2 separate regions of the Homo sapiens genome follow, and region 2 is linked to region 1. The links come from fine-mapping of genetic effects on gene expression. A gene starts in region 1. The other region holds a variant in brackets. All regions are shown on one strand. Distances are between the middles of the regions.

The links. PIP is the estimated chance that this variant, and not a neighbour inherited with it, causes the effect. A credible set is the group of variants that fine-mapping cannot tell apart.
Region 2: its variant is the best candidate, but not a certain one, in a credible set for the expression of PLA2G4E in nasal epithelium (TOPMed, PIP 0.88).

The regions. Positions count from the first base shown.
Region 1 is chr15:42,012,239-42,027,913 of GRCh38, forward strand. It overlaps PLA2G4E (phospholipase A2 group IVE), which reads right to left and starts at 8,804. Exons shown (of 20, transcript NM_001395548.1): 1 at 8,697-8,804; 2 at 1,447-1,519. The coding sequence starts at 8,792. RefSeq lists a silencer at 1,381-1,559.
Region 2 is chr15:42,128,704-42,144,329 of GRCh38, forward strand. PLA2G4F (phospholipase A2 group IVF) reads right to left here. Exons shown (of 20, transcript NM_213600.4): 18 at 15,275-15,441; 19 at 13,825-14,011; 20 at 10,331-13,501. The coding sequence ends at 13,281. Among named protein-coding and RNA genes, the nearest start is that of PLA2G4F, 20 kb to the right of the region's middle. The variant G/A (reference allele first, on the strand shown) is at 9,970.

The DNA.
Region 1 (15,675 bases):
GCTGCATACAAGGCCTCAGGAAGTCATGCAATCTCTTCCTCAAGACCCCAGGTACCCCAACACTTTGAAGGCATCCAATCCCTCCTCTGCCTCACTTCCTGGTTCTCCATACCTGGCTTGTCTCCTCTCTTGCCACACTCTCCACACCTGGGACCAGACCCTACTTCCCTCTTAGGCAATCATTAACCTCTTGTTGCAAAATGGGCCTCCAGGGCCTCTCCTCAAGTTGCTGGGAGCATCGGGTAGTGTGTGGATGTCTGGCTACAGGTCAGCCAGGCAGGTGCTCAGGGGGTGTGGCTCCCCTCCCTCAGGACAGCCTCTCCCCAAGATCGGGCTCCCAAGGCCTCTGGATACTCAGGTCCTGCCCCTCTCAGACCCCAGGCTCTCTGTGCAGCCTTTCTTGGCCACTCCCAGCTCTCATTGTTCTCCTCTGCCTCTAAACTCCCTGGTGACAAGATGGGAACGTTGTTATTCTATAACTGCTTTGGACATAGATAGCTCCTCTTGTTAAAATGTACACTCAATCTCAGGGCTCTGTGTCTTCTCTGCCCCTCTCAGGCCCTCCCTAGCCTTTCGGGATCCCTGTGGCGCTTGAGTCATTCCTGTGTGGTTACCGGTGAGCAGGGATGCTCCCCACCTGTGGGGCCTGGATATACAGCTTTTTCCCCCTTGGGGGCCAACTTCCCCTCTGGATGGGGCCAGGGGTGGGCAGTGTGGGAGGGGCTTTCAGTTCTCCTGATCTCTTAAAATGCCACCCAAAGACAGGGGTGGGGAGGATTCTGCCCACTGAGATGCCTCCATTGGCCCCCGTGGCCTGGAAATGCAGCAGGCTCTGGGATGAGGGGGGAGGTTAGGGCTGCCAGGAAACAGCACTGCACAAACAGTGCTGCTAAGTCAAGCCACATCCATGGGCTGAACTGTAGAACTGGGTGCTGTGGACTCTGGCATGGTCCCCAGAGCCCAGTTTCAGATCTTTGTCTTGAGAAGGGGCTCTGGGAGTCACCTGGCAGCTGGCTCCACGATGCCTAAGTGCCTCTCCTTCCACTTCACCCCAACAGGCCCTAACCGAAAGGAGGAGCAAGGAGTGCTCCGTGTGGGCAAAGCGGGTGCTCTTGGAAATCGATTCCAGGAAGAGAGAGTGGGGAGGAGACAGAGGGCGAACAGAGCTCTTGGGTGCAGGCACAGACTGCGGGGCAGGTAGCGCCGAGGGAACAGCATGAACAAGGGGCCTGGAAGAGTGACAGAAACCCCAAAGTCTGAACTACAACTTGAGTATAGAACACACATTCGTGCACATACATGCACACACATACACGTATACACCATGCACGTGCACACGTGCGCGCGCACACACACACACGGATCCACCTGACCATTTCTCCAGCCAGGGCCTCTTCCATCCAGATCCGGTAAGCAGAGAAGGAGAGAAGTGAGGTGGATACTCACGCATATCAGCCTGCCGGACATTTTTCATCCGGATGACCCTCACTGTCAACAGGTGGCATGGAGACAGCCCCTCCTGTGGAAGGAGAGGACAGAGGACTCAGTCTTCAAGCATTACTCCAAGGCCATTGCCCCGGGGGAGACTTTCCCGCTATGCCTCCTCAGGCCGGCCCAGTTGCATTACAACAACCCCTAGGCTGGTTTTTTTTTTTTTTTTTTTTTTTTTTTTTACAGAGTTTCACTCTTGTTGCCCAGGCTAGAGTGCCATGGCGCGATCTCGGCTCACTGCAACCTCTGCCTCCCAGGTTCTAGTGATTCTCCTGCCTCAGCCTCCCATGTAGCTGGGGTTACAGGTGTCTGCCACATACCCAGCTAAATTTTTGTAGTTTTAGTTGAGACAGGGTTTCACCACGTTGTCCAGGCTGGTCTTGAACTCCTTATGTCAGGTGATCCACCCACCTCGGCCTCCCAAAGTGCTGGGATTACAGGCATGAGCCACCACGCCTGGCTCCCCATGCTGTTTTGTCATTGTTTGCTGGGGTTTCTGTCTGCTCTTCAGCCTGGAAGGTCCTGGAAGCTCCAGAGAGCCTGGGACCCTGACTGGTTTTTCATCTTTGTACCTCCAGTACCTATAGCATGCTCATATCTAGAAGGTGCTAATACATGTTCATTAAGTGAGTGAATGAATGTTCCAGCCCCATGCACAGAATGAACGCCCATGGCAAGGGAGTCCTGAGGTGTTCTCCCTCTCCTTTCTTCACTGAATAGCTGCTTATTGGCACTCTCCTCCTACTGTCCCACATGCAGATATTTGCTCTTGCCCAGGCAAGATGGCAGCCTGCTTGGGAGGCAGGCACAGTGTGGCTGCGGGAAGGGGGGTGACAGACACTGATCACGCACGGTGACATCTACTCACTGGGAGACCATGTGCCAGGGGCTCACCCCCACTGGTACTTACTTAGCTCCAGCCCAGGCCTTTGCATCTCCCTTGCCCTTTGGGCCTCTTCCCCAGGGTATCTCCCCCAGGTCCTTCTGGTCACTCTATTTTCCCTTCCCAGGAAACAGTCTGCCTCTCTCCACTCCACTGTTTCTCGCAAGAGGTCCTTGTGGAGTCTTGGCTGGTCTGCGATGACCTCTCTTTCCTGATGGCAAAAGCTCAAGTAGTCCTTGGTTTGATGACTGGCTCCTGTCAGATGCCTCTGCGGGTCATGATAACCCCAGGGGACCAGAGCCCTGAGGTGTCCCCCTTCCCTAGCACCTTGTCCTAACAACTGGGGTGTGGGAACACTCCCAGCCCTGCTCACGCGGTGCTGATGGCTCCTCCTTCCGTCCTGCCCCTCTTCTAGTTCTGATCACCTCCTGGGGGCTCTGCCATCATCTCAAGCCCAGGTCCTCAAGGAACACCCAGAGCCCTCCCTGGGCTGCAGTGTCTGGGGCAGTGGCTGTGGTTCCTTAAGGCCCCACGTCCCTCCCGAGCTGCCCCTGCACTCTGAGTCTCGCAGCAGCCACTACTCTACTTTATCCCTTTTGGACCCATTACTTCATTACTTTCTGCCTCCCAGAGGCCCTGAAACCCCCTCTTCCAGCCGCACCAGCTTCTCTGGACCCTACAGCAACAGAGTGTCGCCGGATCATCCTTCCTGCCTACCGAGGGACCGCAGCGCTCTCCCAGTGCCCCTCTGCCTGTTGCCCTTGGCCCCAGGCGTTAAGCCTGTGGGAGCCGCTCCCGTTTCACCCCTCTCCTGGCCAGCGTCTCTTCCATGGGCTGTTTTCAGAGCTCAGGGTCTGTGTGCTCGCTGGTAGGGCTCCCTGCCTCTGTTGCTCTGAGAGTGCCAGCCCTCTGATTGTTCCTCTGAATGAATGAACCATCTTCTAGAGTATTATTTTTGAGCACCTACTGTGTGCCAGGCCCTATGCTAGATGCTGGGGGGCCAGGGGTGAATACTAGGCAGAGACAGAGGTTAAAGGCAACAGCGGCCAGTGGCTTTGATGGGGAGAGCAGGTCAAGCTGGCTACAGGCTGTTGCTTTCCAGGCTTGGGGCCTCTGGCTGGCTCCAGAAGCTTCCCCGCCATCAGTCATGCTCCTGGACTCTGGAAACCTCTTCTGGTCCCTAGGGGCCCAAGGCTGCAGAGGTGAGGCGCGTTTCTACTCTGAGCCGGCACACCCGGGAAGGGGCAGCCTCGCACGGGTTCTCTTCAGGTGTCCTGGTTCTGTTCTTGGTTCATGCCTTTCCTGTTGGAACTCATGACTTGAAGCCCCTTCGCTGAGAGTTTTACCCACGCTTAGAAGAGTTTTTGTTGTCGTCCATTCCCAGCCTGAGCTCACGGTAAATGCCTACCAACCGAATGTCTGTATTTATAGAAGCGTCTGAACCGGCACCCTCGACATGCGACCCTGAATGTTCTACTCCGTGTTGCCAGAATCACTTTATACCTTTTTAAGAGGATTCAATTCTTCTCTCTTTAAATACTATTGGGATTGGGGGCAGGAGAAACAAGATACGAAGAAAAAAAAAGTTTCTATAATCCCACCACTCAGAGACCATCTTTTTATCTTTACTTTTTTTTTTTTTTTTTTTTTTGAGACAGGGTCTCACTCTGTTGCCTTGGCTAGGGAATCTTTTGATGCTGGTCCTTTCAGACTTTCCTGGGGCTTAATTCTTTTTTCTTTGGAGACGGAGCCTCACTCTGTCATATAGGCTGGAATGCAGTGGCGGGATATCTTGGCTCACTGCAACCTCTGCCTCCCAGGTTCAAGCAATTCTCCCTCCTCAGTCTCCTGAGTAGCTGGACTACAGGTGCTCACGACCACGCCCGGCTAATTTTTGTATTTTTAGTAGAGACGCAGTTTCACCGTGTTGGCCAGGCTGGTCTCAAACTCCTGGTCTCAGGTGATTCTGCCTACCTCAGCCTCCCAAAGTGCTGGGTTTATAGGTTTGAGCCACTGTGCCTGGCCCCTGGGGCTTAATTCTGATCAGCAACAGAATGCTGATTCTGGGAAGGTCACGTTATTTAGCCCCTTTTAAGGTCTCTTCTCCTCTCCTGAACAGCTGCCTTAAAACCAGGACAAAAGTCAAACTCACAGCCAATTATAGGTCTGGAGATTTATTTTGTGAGATCAACCCTGAAATATTGAACATCTCATGGTCAATAACTTGCTCTAACAGCATTCTGTTGGGAGCCGGAGACTTGGGCCAAAAGCCATGCACACTGCTTCTCTTCTGATGCTGGAGACACAGCTGTGGCCTCTGGCCAGACCTCCAAGGTGCACTCCTCCTTTCTCACTCTGCCCGAGTGCAGCATGCACCCTGGGCTGGCCTGGTGAGGAGGCAGGGTCAACTTTCACCAGGCAAGCAGTTTTGGCAAAACCTGTACCCACCGGCCCACTTTCTCAGAGGGCAACTAGAGTCCAAGCTGTGGAGGCTTCAGCCCAGGCAGGAGTCCGTCCTGAGGGATATTCCACAGTGTTTCAGGGCTCTGAACCCAGGTCCGGTGGTCCTCTCGGCCTCACAATCCTTCTCCTGCCTCCAGGAGGGGGTGCCTGTGGCCCAGCCTGCCTCCTTCAATATCTACTCTGGCAGGGAAGGCGCAGCCACACTCTCCCTTGGGACCTCACTCCAGGTGTCCTGCCTTCCAGGACAAGTTCACTCCCATCATCTAACCTCAGTGCCTTCCAATGCAGGTGACCATTTCTTCCCGCTCTAACTCAGCAACAATAACAGCTAGCATCTGCTGCGTGCCAGCCATGCGCAGGTGCCATGTACAGGTTCTCTGTATATTATCTTGCTTAATCCTTACAACCGCCCCACGAAGCAGTTATTATTAGCTTCGTCTTTATAGATGGAGAGTCAGAGGCTAAGTCCTTTGACACAGGGCTCACAGCTAGAATCAGAGACATCCAATGCTACTTCCCAAGCCTGTGTTTCTCCCACTGAGAATCTCAGTTTACTTGGCAAACAGGAAGACAAATGTTGCTTGCCTTCATCTCCTCTTCCTTGCTTTTCTTCTCTTTAAAACAGTTTTTCTGACAGATTCTTCTTTTCACTCAGCGCTCCCCCAAAGCCAAAAAATAACCACCAAACTCTGACAATTCTTCTATGGCCTGCACTCTTACTGGCTGTTTCTACCAACACATTCTAGGATATCCCTCTCTTTTTAAACATCTAGAGCACATCAGAGCCATAAGGGTCTTTGGAGAAGTTCCCATTTTCCAGTAGCCACAGATTGCTCCACTTGAGCCTTAGATCACACCCTCCAGCTCTCGAATTTTCAGGAGAGACCCAGTTTTCAGGAGACAACCACATTTTGCCAGCACAGAATTGGGACTGGGAAGGGGGTTTGAGAGACATCCCAGCCGGATCATGCTGGGAGGAAGGTGGCAGGAATATGGGACTTAGCTCTGGGGACCAGATGCATTCCAGGAACCAGGTCTATGAGAAATGGCCTTCTTGGGTTGCAATGAATGTACCTATTTTGCTTCTGATATAATCTGTTTGATCAGTGTTGCTAGAGATGAGCAAAAATTCATGGCCTGGAGGTAATTAATCTACAGTGGAAAGATGCAATCGAGCAAAGCACCGTGTCTCTGATGTGCGTGTGGGAACCAGAAACCAGGGAGGCTGTGGAACCCAAGTTTACAGGGTTGCTTATGGTGTGGTGAGGGCCAAAGCTTTAAGGACTCAGATAAGCTCATCCCTAGAACAGGATGCCCTGGCTGGGATTGGGTATCAGGGTGAAGAGTCAAACTATTTAAGAACAGACATGATCAGGCACCATGCCAGCTGGGCTGCAGCCCTGGAGTAGGGACAGGCATTCATCCTTCATGAGGGCATTGGGAGGGCCCTGGGGTAAGGACCAGGGAGCACTTGAAGACTTGGAGCTCAAGGCAGGAACTGTTTGGCAAACAGTACAGAGGTATATTTAGCCACTTTGCCAATCAGTACAGCTGGGCCAGGGAGGACAGGCTGGACAGCAGTTTTCTGGGAAGCCAGGGGAGAGAGAGGGCCCCACTGCTCAGGCTGCCGACACACCGTCCCAGCCCCCTCCCCAGCCTGGATTCTGGGGTTGATCTTGGCAGGACTCCACTGCCCCCTGGGGACCTACTGGGGACTGGGGGACCTTGCCAGCTCATGTGGAAAAGAGGCAGCCCCTTGAATCTCAGGATTGGCTATGATGCAATCCAATGCTGCCCCTTCCCACTCCTACTTTTATAGATATGACTTTTGGCAGGGGTGAGGGTGGGGAACAAAATGTATGACTCTGCTCTGGCAGGCCCAGCTGGGCTGTGCTCTAGCTGCTGTGCATATGCTCTTATCTAACCTTCCAACCACCGCCAAGGAAGGCATCATTATCCCTGCTTTACAGAGGGGAAGGCCGCGTTTAGAGAGATTACATCTCAAACAGGCTTACACTGCCCAGGAGTGGCAGAGCCAGGACTTGGGTGCAGGTCTTCAGGGCGCATGCACTCCATCCACCTGGCTCTCACTATGAATGTACAGCACCAGCTAGCAGCTTGCTCCAGGCCATGTGCTGGACTAGTCAGTAGCAGAGACAGGAGGAAAAGCCTCAGCCTCCTCATTGGAGCTCTCCCTATACCCCAAGAATCTAGCCGTTACCACAAATCAGTCAAAAGAATACTTAATTACCAAAGGGCTCCCAGGGTCAGGCTCCTGGGTGGGAGTGGGGTCTGGGGAAGGGTCTGACAACCACATTTCAGAGGTGGTGGATCCGATGCCCATCGCTGGGCCAGACATACCCTCAGCAAACCATCCCATGAAGTCTGGGGAGCCTGGAGAGAGGGGAAGATGGCACCTGGGGAGCCTGCAGGAACTCCCTCCCCAGGGCTTCTCAGGTCAGGCCAGGCAGGTGATGCCACCTCCTCCTCCCTAGAGAGCTGGGTGTACCCTTCAGTTCCATGCAACACCTGTGTCAGAGCTTGGACTAGCCAGGTGCTGTCTTCCAGAACATGTGGGCCCTCCTTTAAGGAGACCATTGGGAGGGGACATGATGGGACCCTAATACATGTCCCAGCCACTCTGAGCAACATCCCAGACTAAGAGTCACCTGGGAGGAGCTACCATGGCTGTTTTCCTTTTTATCACCAGGCTAGTTGAGTGGTCAGGGCAAGAAATCCCGGCACCAACATGGACCCTCCAGGCCTGACAGGGGCAGATGCAGCTCATGGAGAGGCTCCTGAAGCCACATTTGGGGTCCCGGGCTCTTAACTGCTTCACTGCCCCCTTTGAGGTAAACTCTGTCACCTCTGTGGAAGACCTCTCCTGGCCCAAGCTCTTGGAGGCTCAAAAAGATTGGCAGGAACAATAGGTGGCCAGACGCCCTTCCAGCCACCCAAGTGCTGTGGGGAAACCAGGGCACACCCCAGGAGGCAGTGTCTACCTGGCTGGGCAGCAGGGGCATTGGCCACCACCCACCACGGAGCTCCCTGACTTGGGCTCCTAGGAGACTGAACAGGGTCTTCATCTCCCCCACCAAGGGGCAAAGTACTTTCAGGGCATCACCCATGTCATTCAATGATTTAACTTGAGCCGGGGAGGTGGCCCTGGGAAAGGTAATGAGGAAGAAGTGCTGCCTTCGAGGAACCAACTAATGATTCTTCCCAAGGTGAGCCTACAGCAGATTGAAGCATTGAGGTCATCTCCCTATTGCCTAGATGGGGAAACTGAGGCAGAGTTGGTCTAGAGCCCTGGCAACCTGATCCATGAACCCAGAGGTCTCCCTGTGAGGCTGTGAGGAGTTGGATGGACCCATGAGCCTTGACTGTAAACCCAGGTGGGCAGCTTTGTGGCTGATGGCAACAGATTGACAATGCCACCAATTCTCACCATACACTACACCATACTCTTGCACAGCATAGAAGCTTAGGATGTTTGCAGGGTTAAATCCTGCTTGCCATTAGGGCAGGCCAAATGTGGATCCCCCTGGCATACTCTCTATCTTGGGTGCTAGCCTGGCCCCAGGATGGCCCCACGCCACTTCATGATGCCTTGAAAATCTTGAGGGTACTCTCAGCAGGGCCACCCAAGCAGGAGCCCTGGCCCCAACTGGGATAAACCACCTCCCCCAGGTTTTAAGATGAGGCTGCCTGAGCCCAGGTCCTTGGGATGTCCAATGCCTACCAGCCCTCCCTGAGGCCCGTCTCCTGCTCTCAGCTCCCTGCCCCTGCCCCTCACTTCCTGGCCATGCCTCCCTGGCCCTCAGCCTCTGGCCCCAGCCACTGAGCACCCCTCCCTCACCTTCAAGGCACAGGTGGCCGAGGGCCTGCTGTCTTCTGCTTGGCATGGGTCTGGCAGGGAGTGGGAGACCCTGGCGTGCATCTGCCTCAGGAGCATCACGGCAGCTCTCCAGCTGGGTGGCAAGATCAGGAACTTATACTCTGACTCAGAGCTCCACCTTCCTGGCCACAGCTTGGCAGTAGCTGGGATTGCTCTGGGAGTGGTTTGAGTGGGTAGACAGATAGGGTGCATGGGCCTAGATCTCTTCATATCAAAGAAATCACAGGTCTTCAGGTCATAGAAATACAGGGACCCGCAGGGCTCTGGTCTTTGGGGTCAGCAGTCTGTAGCCCCCAGCCACTCAGAATGACCAGGCCTTCAAGGGCACAGTGGGTGGCAAGAAGAGGACACTGGACCCACATGACTGTAGGACTAGCCCGCCATAATTTGGGAAAGCTCTATCTCTTCAGCTTATAGAGGTCATGGCTCATAGATGCCCCTCTAGGAGGATGCGACCGTCGCTCCCAACTCCACTTCAGTTTCATGGCTTGGTACCCCAGGAGCTGTGGCCAGGGACCTTCATGGGGTCCCTGGCCACAACTCCCAAAGAGACCAGGGTCAGTGCTCCCAAAGCTAGAGGGTGAAGAAAGAAAATAATTGCCCAATACTTCGTGAGAAAGGGTCTGGGGCAACCATCCCCTGTCCTCCCTCCTGGGAGGCCAGGTGGAGAGAGGGCGTGTCCAGCCCCTGCCTGGTCTCAGGACAGCTTGGAGGATGCACCCGCCCCGCCCAGATGATTCCTATCTCTAGCCTGGTGGCTCACTGAGGGGCCTGACAAGGGCAGCTTTGCCTGTTCTGCTGCCTGACTCTGTACACTGGGAGTTTCCTGCCTGAGCTATTGCCTGGGGCCCCACAACCGGCTTTTCTGGACCATAGATAGAAGTGCTTTTTTGAAATTGAGGATGAGATCTGAACATGGGACAGACTGGGCCTGAATGCAGGGATGGAACCTGGTTGGAGGTACCTGTGGGAACTCTTCACGTGCCTGGCCTTCCAGAAAGTGGAGGGGCCTTAGCCTGCTGCTCTCCTGGCTTCCTTCCTTGCCCTGCCCTCCCCTCCTCTGCCAAGGATGGGGACTCAGCACCACATCCCTCAGTAAACTCCACAAATTCAATTTAGTTCATGTACCTAGTAAGCATCTGCTGTATACATCCTACTGAGAGAGGAAATCCTAAGCTTGAAGTTGCTGACAGTCTGGCTGGAGAGCCAGATGCATCCAACCCCTCAGAGGCTCAGGGATCCAAGTTTCCCTGTGGTGAGAGGGGGCATCTTAGAAGGATCGATAACAATCCTTCCTTCACATTTGTGAAGATCCATGGTTTACAGCAGTAGTCCCCATCCTTTTTTAGTGCCAGGGACTGGTTTCACCGAGGTTAATTTTTCCGCGGGTGGGCGGGAGATGGTTTTGGGATGATACAAGTGCCTTACATTTATTGTGCACTTTATTTCTATTATTATCATATTGTCATATATAATGAAATAATTATACAATTCACCATAATGTAGAATCAGTGGGAACCCTGAGCTTGTTTTCCTGCAACTAGATGGTTCCATCTGGGGGTTATGGGAGAGAGTGACAGATCATCAGGCATTAGATTTTCATAAGGAATGTGCAACCTAGATCCCTCGAGTATACAGTTAACAATAGGGTTTGTGCTCCTATGAGAATCTAATGCCACTGCTGATCTGACAGGAGGTGGGTTTCAGGTGGTAATACAAGTGATGGGGAGTGGCTCTAAATACAGATGAAGCTTCACTCACTCGCCCACTGTTCACCACCTGCTGTGTGGCCTGGTTCCAAACAGGCCACGGACTGGTACTGGTCTGTGGCCAGGGGGTTGGGGGCCCCTGGTTTACAGAGCTCTGCCACACAACTAAGAACTGGCTAGGGAACACAGAAGATGGAAAATGGATTCCAGCTGGAGAGGGAAAGAATGGATCTGAAAAGGCCTTACAGAGGAGGTGGCATCTGAATTGGGCTTTAGACGAGGAATGGGATTTCAACAGCTAGTGAGCCTAGGCACCACTAGGAGGAAGAGAGAGGCATCCTAGGAGGAAGAAACAGCATGAACACAGGCAGGGAGGCCAGAAAGCAGGGCACGCTTATGTATGCAGGTGGTCTGGTGTCTGTGCAGTGAGTTGTGTGGGAAGAGATACTGGGGGTAGAGAGTGGAACACAGGGGTGGTAGAAATTGGGCAGAAAGAAGGAGGCTTTGTGAAAGAACAAATCTGGAAAACACCCAGGTAAGGCCCCTCTGCTCTCTGGAGGGCCAGGCACATGAAGAGGTCCCACAGATACCACCAACTTGGTTCTGGCCCTGCATTTGGACCCAGTCTGCCCTGTGTTCAGAGGTCACCCTTCATTCCATACTAGATTAGGGTCCAAATAATCATGACCCTAAAAGGCCATACTTTATATTTGGACGTAGTCTCTAAGCAGTAGGGGGCTATTGATGGTTTTTGAGCAGGAGAGCTGAACTTTAAGAAGGCAAGGATGATTGATGTTGAAACAAGGGATCAATTAGGAGGTGAGATGTGAACCATCTGGGATAGGGGAAGTAGGGTGGAAAGTTAAGGGAGAGATAAGGCCAGAACAGGCCATACAAGCTAAGTCCAGGAGTTTCTGTGGCAACTCAACCCACAGCACTATACTGTCCTGAAAGTCATGGGGTCCCATCTGTCTCCCCATCCCTCCCACTCCCCCACCCTTCCCAATCAGATAGGCCAGGTTGAGCCCCAAACACCAGGGCATTCCTCAAGGCCTCCTATTTGGCCTCTTCTCACTGAAGAAGCCCAGCCACAAACCCCCACTCCAACTCGTATGTTTCCTCACTGTCTATCAACTCCTCAGAGCAGGGTCTCAACTCATTTTAGTTGAATTAAATCAAATTGAATAGGGGGCTGATGGGAGCTTGGTGGAAGTTTCTTCCCCCACATCCTCTGTGGTGCCTCTGTCCCAGGTGGGAGCCAGTGTGACCTTGAACTAAGTGGACTGATCTACTGGAAAGTATTTACCGACTGCCTGCTGGGTGCCCATCTCTGTGCTGACCACTCAGGTGGGGTCTGGAATAAAACAACCAAGAATGTAAAATCTAGAAAGGGGAGGAAAGGGGGTAAAATTAAATGGTAAATTGGCCAGTGTGGGCTCTAAGTGGGATGGGAGGGGAGCAGAGCAGAGGACTCGGGGAGTTGGAAGTGGACTGGGACAGTGAGTAAGGAGTGTCAGGCAAACAGTGACATCCCCACGCCAGGGTGCGGGTGCCAAAGCAGCAATCTTGGTACACAACTGCTGCTCCAAGTCAAGTGCTCTTTTGGTAGAGTTCCTTCTGTGTGGAAATTCTGAACTTGTCTCTGCAGCAAGGGGAGGGAACAGTTCCTTTCCACCCAGCACTGATGACCAGGGAGCCCCAGGATCCTCAGATCCCCTGGGCTACTTGGGCCCAGCCTTGCTGCTGTGTGCGCTGAGGCCTCCGACTCCAGGCCTGTCGCCAGGCTTGTTACCTGACACTTCAGATGGGGTGACCAGGCACTGCCTCTGCCAGCAGACTCTTGGCCTCAGGTAACCCAATATTGAAAAGCACATTCCTCCCAGAAGCCCAGTGGATGCCACTCCCCTGTGGGCCCAGCAAGGATGACTCCTCACTGTCCGCTTTCCAGGTGGTTCAGGGCCCTGTCCCTTCCTTCCCACCTCCTGCCAGCAGCACCTGTCTCCAGCCTCCTCTCTGCCTCCTACAGCTTGTGAGCTTTAGAAACACTCCCTTCAACCTCTCGTTCTTCTGCTGAAAAGCACCTAACGCTTTTCCAGTCTTTGCCAACAAACTCTGGATTCCAATACCTTCCATAAACCAGGTAGGACCCAGGAGCAGCTCTACGTATATACGGAATTTTAGCATACAATAAAGGAAGTATGTGAAATCAGTCGTGAAACTGTAAGAATTAAAGAGGAGCCAGGCGCGGTGGCTCACGCCTGTAATCCCAGCACTTTGGGAGGCTGAGGTGGGTGGATCACGAGGTCAGGAGATCGAGACCATCCTGGCTAACACAGTGAAACCCCATCTCCACTACACAAAAAATTAGCCGGGCATGGTCGCGGGCACCTGTAGTCCCAGCTACTCAGGAGGCTGAGGCAGGAGAATGGCATGAATCCGGGAGGCGGAGCTTGCAGTGAGCCAAGATTGCACCACTGCACTCCAGCCTGGGAGACAGAGTGAAACTCTGTCTCAAAAAAGAAAAAAAAAAAAAGGAAAAGAAAAGAAAAGAAAGAAAGAGGAAAGAAACATGAAAGGTGACTCGCCAGTAAGACAGGTTTACTTAAGGGAAAACAAACCTGAGAGGGGCTTCTGGCCAAGTTAGGTCAGAGGCATACTCTCTTACAGACTAAGAGTTTTTAAGGATTCAGAGTGGGAGAGTTTATCAGAGGCTTGGACTGCTTCTGTGTCTCTTTGTTGTGCTTATCTGGGAGGGAGAGTTGTGTGTCTGTTCCCATACATCTTCCTGTAGCTGCAGGCATACCTCCCCCCACCCCCCACTGGAGTCTGCTTTTAGCTTCCCTATCTTAGTGCACCTGAAGGGAAAGGAATGTGCTTATTAAGGCCCAATGTTTTACTGGGACCCATTGTATGCAGGCGAAGTTTGGCAGTTCCAAGAGACGTTCCCCCTACCTCCCTCTGTACCCAAGCTATCTTATCTGTGTTTTACTGCCTGCTCTTTCTGGCTGCTTGTAGTTAGAAGAGAAGTGATTTCCTTGAAATGCATGAGGCTAGAAAGGGAGCTGGAACTTAGAGTGGTGGTGTTTGTCTGAGATGACGGTGCTCCTGCTCTGTCAGAAAGGATGGACCATTCATTATTGGAAAAGCTAGCTTACCATTTGGAATAAAATGAAATTAACTTCACAAAATAAATTCCAGATAGCTTAAATATCTAACCATTAAAATAAAACTATATATAATTTAAAATGAAATGTGAGAGTACATTTATATAATGTTAGGTGGAGGAGGATCTTCCTAAACAAGGTATAAAACCTAGAAGCAAATAGGGAAATATTGTCAGTTTTGAATACACAGAAATTTTAAACTTCGGTAAAGCAAAAGATGCCATAAGCAGAGTTCCACCTCTACAATAGATCTCACGTTTCCCCTCTTAATAAATATTCATGCATAACAAAATCACTTTAAAAAAAAAGATATAGAGGAGAGTCTTGCCCTACCAGGTACTAAGATAAATTACAAAGCCATACTAATACAAACAGTATATTATGGGAACAAAATGGAGGGAACAGAGACAGACCCCTGCTTTTCAAGGGAACTTAATATATGATAAAATTGGCACCACAAGTCAATGGGAAAAGAATAAACTGTTTAATGGGTGACATGGCAAAAGTGACTTACTATATAGAGTAAAAGAAAACAGCATTCCCATTTCATACCATATAAAAAGGCAGGCTGTAAAAAATTAACACAGGGAAAAGCCAGGAAATGCAAATTCATCAGAAATGCAAATAAAAATGAAAATGAGATTTTACTACAGCTACTAAATTGGAAAAAATTGAGAAAGTTGGATAATGGCAAGTGTTGGTGGGAATATGGGAATAGAGTCACCATCGTGCTCTGCTGTGGAAGAGGAGGCTATCAGGTCAGTGAGGACACTCTGTCGTCACTTAGTCAAAGTAAGAATATCAGACAGCAATTCTGATTTGGATATAGAAAGATATGTATGAGGGTCGGGTGTGGTAGCTCATGCCTGTAATTCCAGTACTGTGAGAGGCCGAGGTGGGAGGATCATTTGAGGTCAGGAGTTCGAGACCAGCCTGGCCAACATGGTGAAACTCCATCTCTACTAAAAATACAAAAATTAGCTGGGCGTGGTGGTGGGTGCCTAGAATCCCAGCTACTCAGGAGGCTGAGGTAAAAGAACCGCTTGAACCCAGGAGACAGAGATTGCAGTGAGCTGAGATCACACCACTGCCCTCCAACCTGGGCGACAGAGCAAGACTCTATCTCAAAAAAAAAAAAAGAAAGAAAGAAAGATGTGTATGAGGGCATTCACTCCACATCACTTACAGTATGAGAAATGTGGAACCAGCCCATGTGAGAGCATGGCTGGAAGCATGAATGGGGAGTGAAGGATGTGCAACCTGCTGCAGTCATTCAAAGCAACACACGAGACGCACGCAGAACAACATGATGGGTCTGGGACAATCAGTGTTGACAGGAAGAGGCAGGAAACACTGGTAAATCTATCAAGGACATCTACAACAACTTCAATATGGCTAGGGAATATATTCAAATAAAATATGCATTGAACACAGTAAAATGATTGCCTTTCTGCTGGGAGGGGATGGGGAAAGTTTTGTGGGTATAGGGAAACAGCAATCAATCAAGAAAGCTGGAAGGGGCCCCCCAGGGACCAGTGAGGATATTGGGCCATGTCTTGGAGTCCTCTGCACCTCAGGTGAGATATTTTTTTCCCTCCAGCTTTTTCCCAGATGTTGCTGCCACTGCTCTTGTCTAAGCCATTATCTCCACTTAACTCCTATATTGCCTAACGGATCTCCCTGCTTCTACTTTTGCCTTCCTATAAGCCACTCTCTACAGAAGAGCAAAAGTGATCTCCTGAAAACATAAGCGAGATTACGTGACTGGCCGGATTCAAGCCTGCCCCTCACTTCTGGCGGCTGACTTCAGACCTTCTCTGAAGGTCTGTGTGGTCGGGCTGCTCACGTTTGTCCTACTTTTCCCTTCACACCCAAGCTCCAGCTACACTGGTCCTTCATGCCCAGGCTCCTTCCCATGTTGGGAATTTGGCCTGAAGTCCTTGACCGCACTCTGTTTATAGCTGCTCTATCTCATCCATCACAGCCCTGCTCAAATGCCATTTTCTGTGGCAGCCCTCCTGGGCCACCCTCCACCTCTCATCTACCTACTTGCTTCTGTGTTGCTCT
Region 2 (15,626 bases), 120 kb after region 1:
CTGCACTCTAGCCTGAACGACAGAGCAAGACCCTGTCGAGGGGCGGCGGGGGGAGAGAGGGAGAGAGAGAGGGAGGGAGAGAGAGAGGGAGGGAGGGAGGGAGGAAGAGAGGAAGAGAGGGAGAGATAGGAGGGGAGAAGAGGGGAGGGGAGGGGACAGGCTGATAATTAATGATGTTGAGCATATTTTCATATATCTGTTAGCCATTTCACATGTCTTCTTTGCAGAGATTTCGTTCAAGTCCTTTACTCAGTTTAAAATCAGGTTATTTTTGTTGTTTTTGTTTTTTGCTATTGAGTTGCAGGATTTCCTTATATATTTTAGAAATTAACCCTTATCAGATATATGATTTACAAATGCTTTCTCCCATTCTGTAGGTTGCCTTTACATTCTGTTAATTGCTTCCTTGGTATGCAGAAGTTTTTTGGTTTGATGTAGTCCTATTTATCTATTTTCAGGTTTGTTCCCTGTGCTTTTAGAGTCATATCCAATAAATTATTACCAATGCCAATGTCAAGAAAATTTCCCCTATAGTTTCTTTTAGGAGTTTTACAGTTTCATGTCTAACATTTAAGTCTTCAATTCATTTAATTTTTGTGTACAGCGTAAAGTAGTGTTCTAACTTCATTTTCATTTTCTCTTTTTTTGGCATGTGGATATCCAATTTTCCCAGCACATTTGTTTGAAGAGACTATATTTCCTCTCTGTCTCATTGCATATTCTTGGTACCTTCGTCAAAGATCAATTGACCACATATACATATGTTTACTTCTGGGCTCTCTATTTTGTTCCATTGGTCTATACGCCTGTCTTTATGACAGTATTTTTTAGAGTCAGACTCATGGAATTTATTTTTTAAGAGTCAGACTCATAGAAGCAGAGAGTACCATAGTAGTTGCCAGAGTTTAGGTGTGAGAGAAATGAGGAATTGTTGTTCAATGGGTATAAAGTTTCACTTTTGCTAGACAATTAAGTTCTGGAGATCTGCTGTACAACATAGTATTACAGTTAACAACATGGTATTGTAGAATTCAGAATTTGTTAGAGGGCAGATCTCACCTTAAGTGTTCTTACCACAAAGACAAAACAAAGCAGAAACAAAAATAAAACAAAGCGGAAACAAAAACAAAACAAAGCAGAAACAAAAACAAAAGAACACCAGGAACTTTTTTAGGTGTTGACTGTGTTGACTTGATTGTGGTGATAGTATCACAGGTGTTTGCCTACGTCCAAACTCATCAAATTTTACATATTAAACATGTGCAGTTCTTTGTACGTCAATTATACATCAATAAAGCTGCTTTTTAAGAAAGGAAACCACTGAGTTGAAATGGTCAGCTTCTGTCTTAAGAAGCTAGACAAAGAGCAAATTAAACTCAAAGTAATTAGAAGGAAGTAAAAAAGAACAAAATTTATTTAAATAGAAAATGGGAAAATAATGAATAAACAAAAGCAAAAGTTAGCTCTTCTTGAATATTTAATAAAATTGAGAAATCTCTTCGCTAGACTGATCAAGCAGAGAGAAAACACAAGCGAGCAACATCAGAAATGAAAGGGGACATTACTCTTCATCCTAAAATGAGAGACTTGACCTAGCTAGCCTCTGACGTCCCTTCCAGCTTAGCTCAACCTTCTCCCAGGGCTCCCTGCAACTCTATTTCCACTCGTGCTGAACTCACCAGGAAGGAATCCCCCAGTGGCTTCACCAGCTCTGCAGAAGCCACTCACTAGGCTTGTGATAAAGGGCGCCAGGGAAGGAGCCTCTAGGATGACTGTGACTTGGGATCCTCTGCAGGAAGAGCAGCCTCAGATTGCTGACCCCCTCTCTGGTTGGTAAACTAGGACCCATTGGTAGTAAGAAGGTTTGGGATGGGGAGCATCGGAGAAGGGCCGTGGAACTACAGACAGAGCTGAGAGCCCTGCACCATAAGGAAGTAGCTTCCTCCATGCCTCAGACCCCCCAGTGAGCAGGTTCCAGAACAGTCCTGGACGCCCAGGCTGCTCCCTAGCTGCTCTTTTGCCCACCTACCCCATTCCTGCAGCCTTGAGCTCCTCCAGCCTATAGTAGGGCACTTCCATCTGCTAATGGATAAAGTCCTCTGGGACACCTAGCAGGAAACACTAGAAGCTCAGGATGACACAGGCTGTGGTGGCAAATCCCTGGCTGTAACGGCACTCAATGAAAGGCAATCTCTACCCCTGGGGCCCCAAATGCCTCTCATTTCCAATTCCCCAGGGTCAGCTGGTTCCCACAGCAAGCCTCCTCTGAGAGCTCCAGTCGGGAACTGCTTGTCTAGACCCAGCTCAGGTCTAGATGCCCAAGGTCAAGACTTCAGTAGCCAGGTTCAGTCTGGGAAATAAGATGAGAAACCCAGGATAGTGACCCTGGTGACATGTAGGCCCCCTCTGTAGCCAGGATATGGGACCCCAAGGGAGACTTGAGAAGGCAGCCTGCCTGCAACAGCTCTCACTCAGAGGAAGACACAGATCAGGAGCAGGGGCAATGAGGAGGCACCAAAGCCTGGATCAACAGCGGGCTTCTACTAAGTGTGAACCCTGCAGGTGCATCTGGGGAGCCTCTTGTCAGTGTGGTGAGGACAGAGAAGGGGGTTTGTATGAAGTGTGTAGCCTTGTAGCTGTTGATCATAGCAAGTGATCCAAAAATGTATGGCTGAGGATGGGCTGGCAGTCCCTTAAGCCTGTACTTCCCACCTGTTTCCATGTGAAGGCACTCCTGGAAAGTGAAGGCATCGATGTGGTACACTGGGGTAAACATACAAGTCTGCAGGTGGTTGGAGAATGACAGCAAGGCTCCTGTCTTCGGTTTGTGCTGCTCTAATAGAACACTGTAGCCTGGGTGATTTATACAGAACAGAAATGTATTTCTCAAGGTGTCAGTGGGTTGCGTGGTGAGGGCTGCTGTCTGCTTCCCATGTGGCATCCTATGGCTTTATCCTCCAGAAGGAAGAACACTGTGTCCTCACTTGGCAGATGGGTCAGAAAGGGCAAACTTGCCTCCTGAATCCCTTCTGTAAGATCACTAATCCCCATTCATGAGGGTGGAGGCCTCATGGTCTAATCACCTCTCAAAGTCCCCATCTGTTAATACTGTTGCACTGGGAACTAACTTTCAACATGAATTTTGGAGGGGACATCATGTTTCAAATCACAGCAGATTCTAACAGCCCAGGCCCTTCCAGCCACCTTGGGGGCTGAGGAGCTTGGCATCTCCCATTCAGGAATATGAGAGTACAGCTCTGGGCTTCAGGCCCCTCCTACCCTGACTCTGGCTCTACTCCAAGCCCAGCTCTTAACAAAGATACCTACTCCCTGGGTGGTGGCAGCAGCAGTCACACAGGATGGGAGCTTGAATCTCCCGATCTCAGCAAGGCAGGGATCTATGAAGGCATCCAGGCTCTACCCTCTGGGTGGCTCCACACCGAGTGCTTTTCCCTCAGCTCTTTGAGGCCAGCCAGCACCACCAGGAGCCCCTGGCACAGCTCACAAAAGAAAAAGCAAAGGCCAGGCATGCACACGGGGAAACACAAAAGTAGACACCTCCCCCCAGGCCAGCAGATGAGGGAGGGAGATGAGGCAGATCCATGGGCAAAGATGAGGAGCCAGTCCTGTGAAATGTCCCAGAAGGCCGGGTCCTACCCCTGGCCTAGGTGAGGGTTAAGACCAGAGGACTGGTCACTCTGGCCACCACCACCCCAACCCCCACCAGTGTGGCAGCAATAAGGCCAGGTCTGAGCCAAGCTGCTCTGAATACACCTGGCAGAAAGTGGGGAGTAATGAGGACTGAGTCACTTAGGAACAGCCAAGAGGCCACTCCTGGGCAGCTTAGCGCAATCAGCACCCTGTGTGAAATAATAACCACTTCTACTGAGGACTCCCAGTGTGCCGGCCACTGTGCTTACCACGCTCCACATCTTATTTCAGTTCACCTTCACGGCAACCCGTGAGCAGGTCCCTGAGAGACTTAGGGAGCCCTGGCAGCTCTCAGGTTACAAAGCTCCTTATCCTTGCACATGTCAGGTCCAATTAGTCCACCCTCTGATTCAGCTGGTGAAGAGGAAGAGTGGATGTCAGCACAGATTGATGGTGCATTTGGGGATTGAAAAATACCTGAGTAATCGGCTAGGTGCAGTGGCTCACGCCTGTAATCCCAGCACTTTGGGGGGCCAAGGTGGCCGGATCACCTGAGGTCAGGAGTTCAAGACCAGCCTGGCCAACATGGTGAAACCCCGTCTCTACTAAAAATACAAAAATTAGCAGGGTGTGGTGGCATGTGCGTGTAATCCTGGCTACTTGGGAGACTGAGGCAGGAGAAATCACTTGAACCCAGGGGGGCAGAGCTTGCAGTGAGCGGAGATCGCACCACTGCACTCCAGCCTGGGTAACAGAGTGAGACTCCGTCTCAAAAAAAGAAAAAAAATACATGAGTAATCAAAAAACTCAAATATTAATAGAATAAAATGTATAAAACAATTCATGCCTAAAATTTCTTCATTGTTTCAGATGTAGAATAGTTAATTTAACTTAAATCATTTCTTAAAAAGACAAATTCAGAAAATTTACTGTGTAATTGAAAATAATTTTTTTAAAATGTTGAGGGTGATCTTAGCCTGTTCTCTGTCTTTCATCTTGAAACACAACTTTTCCTTTGTAACATTTTACTCATCCCCATCTTAGTTAGTTTGTGTTGCTATGAAAGGATACCTGAAGTTGGGTAATTTATAAAGAAAACAGGTTCATTTGGCTCATGGCTCTTCAAGGCAGGCTGTTCAAAGAGCATGGTGCCAGCATCTGCGTCTGCTTCTGGTGAGGGCCTCAGACGGCTTCCACTCGTGGCAGAGGGCAAGGGGAGCCTTTGTGTGCAGAGATCACAGAGTGAGAGAGAAAGCAAGAGATGGGGGAGGTGCCAGGCTCTTTTTAACAACCAGCTCTTGGAGGAACTAATAGAGTGGGAACTCACCCAGCCCCCAAGAAAGAGGGCAATAACCTATTCTTGAGGGATCTGGTCCCATAACCGAACACTTCCCATTAGGACCCATCTTCAACACTGGGGATTAAATTTCAATATGAGGTTTGGAGGACCCCCTATACCAAGCCCGTCATATTAATAATAGAAAAGATAAAAACATAGGTTAATAAATTAATAACCCATGATTCAAAGCAAGAAAGAGAACTCTTCATGAGTCAGAAACGCAGAGGCAGCCCTGAATGAAGGAGGTAAACGGGCAGCCCAATGGAACACACTGGCACGCTACCCGGCCCTCCATGCCAAGGCTGCTACTGTTACCCAGGGGCTGCAGCATCCCTTCAAGGCTGTGTGAGTCCCCCAGCAGCATAGCTTCAGCCTCCCCAGCCCCAAGTCCCACACTGCCACCTGCAGGCCAGCCATCATTACCACGGCATGGCCAAGGACACGCAGCCAGGAGCCATCACAGCCCAGGGCATGCAAGGAACTCTCTCAGAGATGAGGTTACAACCAACAGTCACCAAATACATAAAGAAGGCAGCATCCATGAAAGAGAGGCAACAAAGAACCTACCCCCAAGGAATCCAGTCACAGAACAATCAGAAAAACGTGTTAAAATACATACGCTAACATCATCACAGTGAAAGGAGTGAAGCCTATTCAGGAAATGAAAACACGTAGTTTTGGAAAAGATCCGCTTAGAGAACTTAAAATGAAAAATGTGATAGTCAAGTTAAACAGAAACCCCAAAAGATGAATCCAGGAGCGGACTGGACACAGAAGATTGTGTTCATGATCTGGAAAATCATGCTAAGAAAATCCCCCGGAATACAGCACAATGAAAAGATAGAATGCATAAGAGGAAAGTTTAGGGATACACAGCGTTGATTCAGATATTCCTACATCCAGTTAATATGAATTCCAGAAAGGGAGGATGAACAGCAGTTGTGATAAAATTGACAGGTAATTTCTTAGAGCTTCAAAAAGACATACATCCAGAAGTTGAAAGAGCTCACTGATAATTTTTTACCTTTACACTTTAGAAAAATCAAAATTAAACTTTTTGATTTTATTATTTTTTTTTGAGACAGAGTTTTGCTCTGTCACCCAGGCTGGAGTGCAGTGATGCAATCGTGGCTCACTGCAGCCTCGAACTCCTTCTGGGCTCAAGCAGTTCTCTTGCCTCAGCCTCCCAAATAGCTGGAACTAAGGTGTGCACCATCATGCTTAGCTAATTTTTTATAGAGATGAAGTCTTGCTTTGTTGACCAGGTTTGTCTTTAACTCCTGGCTTCAAGTGATCCTCCTGCCTGGCTTCCCAAAGTGTTGGGATTACAGATGCGAGCCATAGAGCCTGGCCAAAGTTAAACTTTAAAAATCAAAGACAGGCCGGGTATGGTGACTCACACCTGTAATCCTATCACTTTGTAAGGCCGAGGTCAGAGGATTGTTTGAGCCCAGGAGTTGGACACCAGCCTGAGCAACATAGGGAGACCCCGTCTCTACAAAATTAAAAATAAAAATAAAAATAGCCAGGAATGGTGGCACATGCCTGTGGGCCCAGCTTCTTGGGAGGCTGAGGTGGGAGGATCGCTTGAGCTTAGGAGGTTGAGGCTGCAGTGAGCCATCATCTGCCACTGTACTCCAGCCTGGGTGACAGAGTGAGACCTCATTTCAGAAAACAATAAATAAATAAAATAAAAGACAAAGTCCTAAAAGTTACAGACAAATGACCTGCAATGGGGACTCCAGCTGCCATCAGATTGCATATCAGCAATATCAAATGCAAGAAGGCATTAACATCTGAGCATATGCAAGCATGAACCAAGAATTCTATACTCTTCCAGGCTATTACTCATAAGTCAGGGCAAGAAAAGAGAATTCTAGACATATAAGCAGTCAGAATATTTACCATCCACACACCCTTCATTAAATATTCAATTTTGCACTCCACTAAAAAGAAAAGCAAACGCAAAAGAAAGAAAGGAGTTACAAGAAGCAATGACAAGCAACTAAATCAAGAAACTATATTGTAAAGTGGAAATAAAAATTTCTATTTTGCAGTTTTTAATACACTGGAAATAAGATTCCAGGTGATTAGTAGAATGTTTGGGTGGTTGGGGAGCGGCACATAGGGCAGGAAACAGGAAGCTACAAGCATGCCAGGATGCTTGTCTTGTTTGGGGAGAGACAATAGAGACTGGTGGACTTTTTAATGGGACTTTAAAAAAATAAAAGTTTAGGCTGGGTGTGGTGGCTCATGCCTGTAATCCCAGCACTTTGGGAGGCAGAGGTGGGTGCATCACTTGAGGTCAGGAGTTCAAGACCAGCCTGGCCAACATGGTGAAACCTGTCTCTATTAAAAATACGAAAATTAGCCAGGCATGGTGGTACACACCTGTAGTCCCAGCTACTCGGGAGGCTGAGGCAGAAGAATCGCTTGAATGCGGGAGGCAGAGGTTGCAGTGAGGAAAGATCATGCCACTGCATTCCAGCCTGGGCGACAGAGTGAGACTGTCTCTGAATGAATGCATGAATGAATGAATGTTTAAGTAAGAAGACTTTTTTTTTTTCGGAGACAGAGTCTCGCTCTGTCACCCAGGCTGGAGTGCAGTGGCGCGATCTCAGCTCACCGCAAGATCTGTCTCCATGGTTCACGCCATTCTCCTGGCTCAGCCTCCTGAGTAGCTGGGACTACAGGCGCCCACGACCACGCCTGGCTAATTTTTTGTATTTTTAGTAGAGACGGGGTTTCAGTGTGTTAGCCAGGGTGGTCTCGATCTCCTGACCTCGTGATCCACCCGCCTCGGCCTCCCAAAGTGCTGGGATTACAGGCGTGAGCCACCGCACCTGGCCGTAAGAAGACTTTTAATGAAGCTAAATTTGGAAATAAACCAAATTTCCATCAGCAGGGGAATGGATAAACATTGTGGGATATCTACATACATCCTAGTGAGTTATACTAAGGAAAGAACTACAGACACAGCAACAGGGATGACTCGCAAACGCAAAACGTGTTGAGTGAGAGAAGCTGGACACAATGAGTCAAAAAGTCAACGAATTGTAAGTCAAAAAAATTTTAAGTGGTTCAAGGTAATAATTTTTCGACTATACCATTCCATTTGTATGAAACTCTGGAAAAGACAAATCCATTGTGGGAGAAAGCCGATCAGTAGTCACCTGGGGCCAGGAGTGGGGAAACTGACTGGGACGGAACGCAAGATAACATTTTGGGTGATGGAAATGTTCCATATCGTGACTGTGGTGGTAGTTACACATGTATATAAATCAGAATTCATTGAACTGTGCACTTACTCTCTTGTACACTTACTGTACACTTAGAATGTGTGCTATTGCATATAAATGATACGTCAATGAAATTGACAAGAGGAACCACCAGAATGGTGGAAATAGGATGCATAACATTCAAACCAGCAGAGGGGAAAAGAAAAAAATCAAACCAGAAAGCAGGAAGGCGGGGGAGAAAGACGAAGCATGGCAAACAGAAAACAAGTGTGTCTCAAGCCCCAGGACTTGCTTTGAAACCCAGCGATGGTAAAATAAATGGAGAGGTTGGGGTGGGGAGTGAAAGGAGACCTGGGGCATGGCACAGTGTTTCCTGGTACCCAAGATGGAACTGAAAATCTATAGGCCCTTAGAGGACTTAAGGTGCCTCCAGGAAATTCTGGCAGTGTTCAGGGACCCGAAGAGAGGACAGGAGGACAAGGACAGCAGAAGCGCTGAGGCCAGAGGGAGGAAGGAAAAGCAAGAAGGGGCTTCAACGGTACCAACCCGAACTAGACGATGCACAAGCAAGGGCCACCTGGACCCTCCTGTGGAAGCCTCAGCCACCATGGTCCAGAGGAGCCCAGTGGGGGTGGTGGGATGACAAAGATGCCCCGCAGTAGACCAAGCAGAGCCAGGGCAGGCATCAGGCATTTAAAGCTCCCCAGGTGAATTCAAGGTGCAACCCAGGTGAGATCCATCACTCTGGGGTCAAAGGATAAAGAGCCACGAGGACTTGTGAATGCCAGCAAATCAGCCAGAGCCTCTCTCAAGAGCACCTGCCTGCCTCTCCCCACCCGGGTGGCCCCCCTTCTGGGTAGCTCCCCATCCCTTCTCTTCCTTACTCATATTTTCCTCCCCTTTGTCTTTTCCTCTTTCTCCAACTTCGCCTCCTTTTACCACTTACTTTGCCAAAGCTCGCCACCTAGTGTTGGTAGACTTTTAAAACAGTGGCCTTTATTACATATTTATCCAGATGGTCCCCAACTGAATGGTTTGACTTACAGTTTTTTGACTTTCCAATGGGTTGAGATGTAACCTCATTGTAAGTCGAAAAGCAACTGTACATCTTTTTCAAAACCAAGACCTAAATCTTACTAAAGTAACTGGCTTTTTAACATAGTGAGTCATTCACCGCTTAATATTTCCTGTGCCTCAGCTTTCCTAATAGGAAAAAAAAATCAGTCCCCAGCCCTGACCTCTAGTGGTTAACAGCCTCCCTGACTCCCAGGACAGCCCCCTACAGACCCCTGTCCTTCATGGAGAAAATTCCAGGACTCCTTGCCCCGTTTGTTGGGTGTCCCTGTGGAGTTTTACAGGACAGAGGTGCTAGGGAAAGATAGATTCCTGCAGGGTATGCAGTGTGCCCTGCTTTTCTCCTCTGCAAGAATGGTTTCATCTGAAATGAAGGAAATTTCATTTAAAGCCTCAGCTGATTACCACCACCAACTGAGCAATGTTAGCTGCATGGCCTGGGCTCAGAGAAGGCGGGGGTTACCCATGCCCACCAGCCACCTGCCAGTACCTGAGGCCCTTCTCCCAGTGCTGCACCATCCAAGGAATGGAAAGGATACTTGCTCTTCGATTTTCTGCAGGAGATTCTTGTGAATGCCGAGCTGCATCGAAGGAACCAGGGGGCCTGATATTTGAACCAGCCTCTGTCCTCATACTCAGTTGAGGCTGTGCTCCCAGGGCTGCTAG[G/A]TCACACAACTCCAAGAGACAAATTCACACCATCAGTTCATGTGAACAGGATCCCCTGAAGTTGTGCAGTGCACAACCTGTGCAGCCCTATGTGACAGGCTTGTGGCCCCCTTTTTCTCTCATGAGGGGCTCTGACAAGCTGATGAATGATGCCCCTGCTCCTGTGTTTCTACCCAGCTTCAAGGGAAACCATGCTTGTTCTTCTGGACAAATCCCTCCAACTCTGTCACCTTCAGGACCTTGAAGCTTATTTCCAGCCATCTCAGACAAGAGTTGGAAATGAGGTAAGGACTCAGATACCTCCTCACTGAGGAGCGACCCTGGCTGAGCAGTGGATGAAATGTGTACTCAGACACAGGTATGCAGTGTAAGAGCAGCTAGGGGACTGCCCAGCTCAAGTGGCCAAAGTGCAGCCCTGAGAAGCTGGAGCTGCTTGCTTTTATTCAGTGCAGGCACAATGCCAAAAGCCTGGAGCAAACACTGGAGGTAATTAACATTTATTGTTCCCCTTTCAGGGAAGGTCATGGGCGTAGATGATCAAAGGTCAGTTCCTGGTCAACAGAAGTAAACAAGCCTGTTTAAGATAAATTCCCCCACACTCCCTCGTACCTACTCCTTGCCCTCTGCCTCAGGGTTATAGAACAGCTGTCTTTAGCTATTCTCCTCCAAAGCTATGCAGAGCCTTCCAACCTTTCAGAAGGCCTGCTCCTTTCCCTATAGCTTCTCCCACCACTCTGACCAATCTCCTACACTTGTGGCCCCCTTTTTCTTCCCTTGCCTCATGAGGAGCTCTGACAAGTTGATGAATGATGTCCCTGCTCCTGTGTTTCTACCCAGCTTCAAGGGAAACCATGCTTGCTCTTCTAGACAAATCCCTCCAACTCTGTCACCTTCAGGACCCTGAAGCTTATTTCCAGCCATCTCAGATAAGGGTTGGGAATGAGGTAAAGACTCAGATCTCTCCTGAGGAGCAGACATTAAACTGGCTGGGTTACCTTCGGCCCCTCCCCTGGCTTCTTGCTCTGCGTGGCTCCCAGATTCAGTCTTGTTGGAGCCTCCCCATCCCTGGCTGAGATCCTCCCTGTACTTCTGGCCAATATCTGGGCCACAGCACTAGCCCAGCCTCCTGCCCCCTGCCCCCTGCCCTTGATCTTGTCCCAGTCTCCTCCCAAACCTTATCTGAGCACAAGTGGCATTGCCTACACTTCTGTGTGAGAAGGTCCCCGCCCACTCTGCACAAGCCCACGTTTGCCTCCTTCACAAGCCTTGCTGGCCTGCGGGGACAGACGCTGGCCTCTGCAACCCTGGGGCTGCTGATCACATAGCTGAAGCAGAGACCTTATTGTAAGCAACTTTTCATGTGTGTGTGTATGCCTTTTTCTTGGGAGAGGGTCTGTGGTTTATATCAGCTCTTCAAAAAGTCCACATGGGTTAGGAATCATGAAAGCATTGCATGCTTTTTTGTGGTTGGTGGGTGACGATCCATTTCTTAGAATGTAGGTTCCCATTCATTTATCAAATATTTACTGAGCACCTACCATGTATCAACTGCTGCTCTAGGCACTGAGGATACAGCAGTGAACAAAACAGATGGTAGAATGACTTTCTAGGAGCCAGAGACAGCCTGAGGCTCTAATGGGCACTGAAGAAACACCACAGATTCTAAGTTGTGAACGCTGTGCAGTTCTGAGCTGTGAACCCTATGAAGGTTTTACTAACAAGTTATTGATGACGGCAGGCACAGCAGTGTTGATGACAATGGCCACAGCAGGAGCCAGATAAACTCCCAGATAAACCTCTCACTGCTGAACCAAGGGGAGGGGCCGTGGCCTGTGACAGGCAGCCATGGTGAGGAGGCAGAGGAGAACTGAGGTGTCCCCACCCCATGCCAGCCCAAATAACTGGCTCCCCCAGCCCTCGCAACTCATGCCAGCTGGAGGGCTGCAGATCCCAGGCCAGGCCAAGACACAGGCTGGGCTCCAGTCACCCTTCCCCAACCTGGAAACCAGAACTAGTCTTCTTTCCAGACTCAGGACAGGTAAGGCTTCCCAGCACAGGTGTTCCTGACAGCGTGTCTGTGTGAGAGAGCATGGAGCAGGGGGTGCAGCCAAGAGGGAGCCCCTGGGACAGGGGGCAGAAGGAACAAGGTCTCAAGTGCTGCTGCAGGCTCCTAGGCAGCTCAGCACTGGAGGCATATGCTGCAGAGGCCGTGGCCAGATGGAGAGGGCCTGGCCAGAACGGGATCTCCTCTTCACGAATCTGAGGGCTGCCCACACTAGAGAGGTTCTAGGTATTTGGAGAGTCCCTGGCGGGTCAGGGGAAATGGAGAAGAGGGAGAGTGAGAAACAAAACTTGCCAAGACCCATTGGATGCATCTGGGAAAGAGGCAAGAGCCCAGGCGAGGCTCCCTCTGCACTGCCCATGCCTTGGAGTAACCCACCTCCAGGAACTTGCACACCCTCCTGCCCCACATACAGGTGCACACCTCTCCCCCGATGAACTGATGCCCCTACTAGACACACCCATTTAGCTCCTAGGAATGGTGAGACTATATTTGCATGATGTGGCCACTACACACATCACCAGAGACTGTGGTCCAGGTTCGAAGAGTGAAGCCTGGGTAACTGGCAGGGAGACACGCGCACATCTCCCACCTGGAGCAGCCAGAATGGGACATCACCCCACAGGCTTTAGGGCGCTGGGAAGAGAAGGGTGATCTGGGAGGAGGCACGAGGAGACCAGAAGGCAGAAGGAGGGTTAGGATGATGGAGTCAGCAACATAGGCTGGCCATCCCCTCAGCCCCTCATTGTTCTTGATAGCAGTGCATCCAGGAGCTCGAGGTGGGGTTGGGGCTTGGGCCGCTCTGCAGGAAGTGTGGATGGATGCATCTCTGCTTTCCATCTCAGTGTAAGGAGGACAGCTGGCTTCTCAGTGCCCTCAGCCCCTGTTCTGTGTGGGTCTGAGGACTTGGGCCCTCTGAGGTCCTTCTGTGTCTGGGGTGGGCTCTGTGGCTCACCTGATTCTCTCCACACCCCGCTGTGAAATGAGTGCTGTTCTCTTCTGCCCTACATCCCCAAGAGTCCCTGGAGCGATCTACTGCCCATCTTCTCCAAAAACACACAAGGAGAGCCCTGCCCCAGTCCAAGCTGCAATTCTGCAAGAGCTTTCCGGGGCCTGGGGCACCTCGAGGCAGGTCCTGGAGAGAAGGGAAGCAGATCCTGCACAGAGTCCCCATCGCTCCTCCCTCTACAAGCCCTGACCATGAGCAGTGTGTCTCCTCTCTGTCACAGTCCTCCGCTTCCTGCCTTGGTCAGGCCCCTGCCCTCTCCCGAGCCTGGTGCCGGTCCAGAGCCAGCTGGAGGGCGCACTTCAAGGTCTCCACGTTGTTCAGGACGTTGTATCGACTGAGGGCCACCAGCCGATAAAAGTCCTGGGGCTCATAGGTGAAGTTCATCATGCCATAGGGGGTGTCTGGCCTGTTGATGACAAAGTCCCCAAAGGCCTTCTCCTCAGCTGTTTGTCGCTCCACACCTGTGGGTGGGGGAAGCAGAGGAGAGGCCAGGATGGAGCCCTCTGTGGAACTGGCTGGAACAGCCCAGAAGTCTTCCTTGTGCAGGACACCTGGCTGGCTCCCTGCGGGCCCTGCTTGGGCCACATCTCAGCTCTCAGACCCCCCAGGAGGGGCTGGCCCCATCTGAACGCTGAGACCCAGGGAGCAGAGGGCCACAGGGGCCAGCTCAGGCCCACCAGGAGGCGTGCTTAGTGACATTCTCCAGGGAACCCACCCTCAGAACAGCGTCCCATCACCATCCCAGGGCTCTGTGGGTCAGTCCCAGGCCTGGAGCTTCCCTTACCTGGGGCCAGGTGTGTGCGGAAGGTACGGTTAACCAGGGGGAAGTGCAGCACAATGGGGGAGCGGGGGTCCTCAGCCTTGGCAAACAGATAGCACTCACGGGCCTCCTCCATGTCCTCAGGGCCCACCTCGATGCTAGGGAAGGGGATTCCTCGGTCCAGGCAGTACTTCTCTGTCATCTTCAAGACCTGAGCAGGAGCAAGCCTCTGACTCTGCCTTTCCTCCACCCTGGCCACTCCCGCCGCCCTGGACTCACACACGCCCAGGCTTCAATGCCAGCTCTGTTTCTGACTAGCTGAGTGACTTCAGGCAGGTGACAGCTCCTTTCTGAGCTGGTTTCTCATGTGTAAAATAAAAAATTTTTAAACTTCCGGCCGGGCATGGTGGCTCATGCCTGTAATCCCAGCACTTTGGGAGGCCGAGGCTGGCAGATCATGAGGTCAAGAGATCAAGACCACCCTGGCCAACATGGTGAAACCCCGTCTCTACTAAAATTACAAAAATTAGCTGGGCATGGTGGTGTGTGCCTATAGTCCCAGCTACTCGGGAGGCTGAGGCAGGAGAATCATTTGAACCTAGGAGGCAGAGGTTGCAGCGAGCCAAGATTGCACCACTGCACTCCAGCCTGGTGACAGAGTGAGACTCCATCTAAAAAAAAAAAAAAAAAAAAAAAAAAAAAGCTCCCCATCCAGTGGTGTTGTGAAGATTAACAATAATCAGTAATGATCAACAATCAATCATCCACTGCCTCAACAGCATTCCGCCATGGTCCTCCAGGAACCACCATGGTCTTCCCTTCTCTCACCCCTCTCTGCTCCCTATTAGAAGCTGATGTCAGTTTCACAAGGTTGACATGCGACAATCACAGAAGGTCCACGTCAGAAGAGGCTTCATCAATCCCCAGTCAATCCCAGGCTCTCACTGGACCCAGGACAAAGAGGAGACCAAAGGAAGGGCTGCTCCAGCAGCACCACCAGCACCCACATGGGAATGGGGGCATCCGTCCACCACCCAGCAGAGATGGAGGGACTTGCTGCAGGGCTTCTGCATCAGAGGGGACCCTCATGGCTCTGTTGTTACCATGGTAACAAAGGGGCCACAGACTCAGGTCCAAGCTGGAGTGGGGAAATCTGTCATGAATGGGCAGAGTCTAGAACTGGGGGATCTTCTATGGATGAGGCTAGAAGATTCCTGGGGACCCTCTTTGGCCTCCTCTTCCCACGCCCACCATAATCTCAGCAACTCTCCTGCAACTGGGAGACCTGTGCTGCCAACAGCGTTCAGAAGGCAGCTCCCTCACACACAGAGTGGAACCCAGGCCGTCCACAAAGGGCAATCCCCACACACCCAGCCAGTCCCCCTCACCAGAGCCTTCTTTCCCCTCCTCTCCTCCCTCACCCTTTCTGTCCACTCACTGCAGGTGCTCCCCACATCCCTGCCTCCCAGCTCACCTCAAAAGGGGCTTCCAAGGAATAGTCAAAGGACAGAATGAGGTCCACTGCTCTCTGAGGCAGCAGAGCCAGTGGGAACGGAGAGTTGATGGCAAAGCCTCCGTCCACCAGGTACAGGCAGTCCCGCATGGGGGTGAGCTGGTTGGGGAAGGCGTCCGGGTGTGTGTCTGCAAGGAACCCATGTGTACGCACAGGGACGAATGCAGTTACTCTTGCTAGCAACCGCTTCTGTATTTGCATTCACGTTTGCCTTCTCTCTGTAGAGTTCTCTCTGACAGCCATGGAGACTCCTGCCCCAAGCCCTTGGCCCTGCCTTCCAGCTTCCAGCAGTATTTAGAGTCGCTCCGCATCA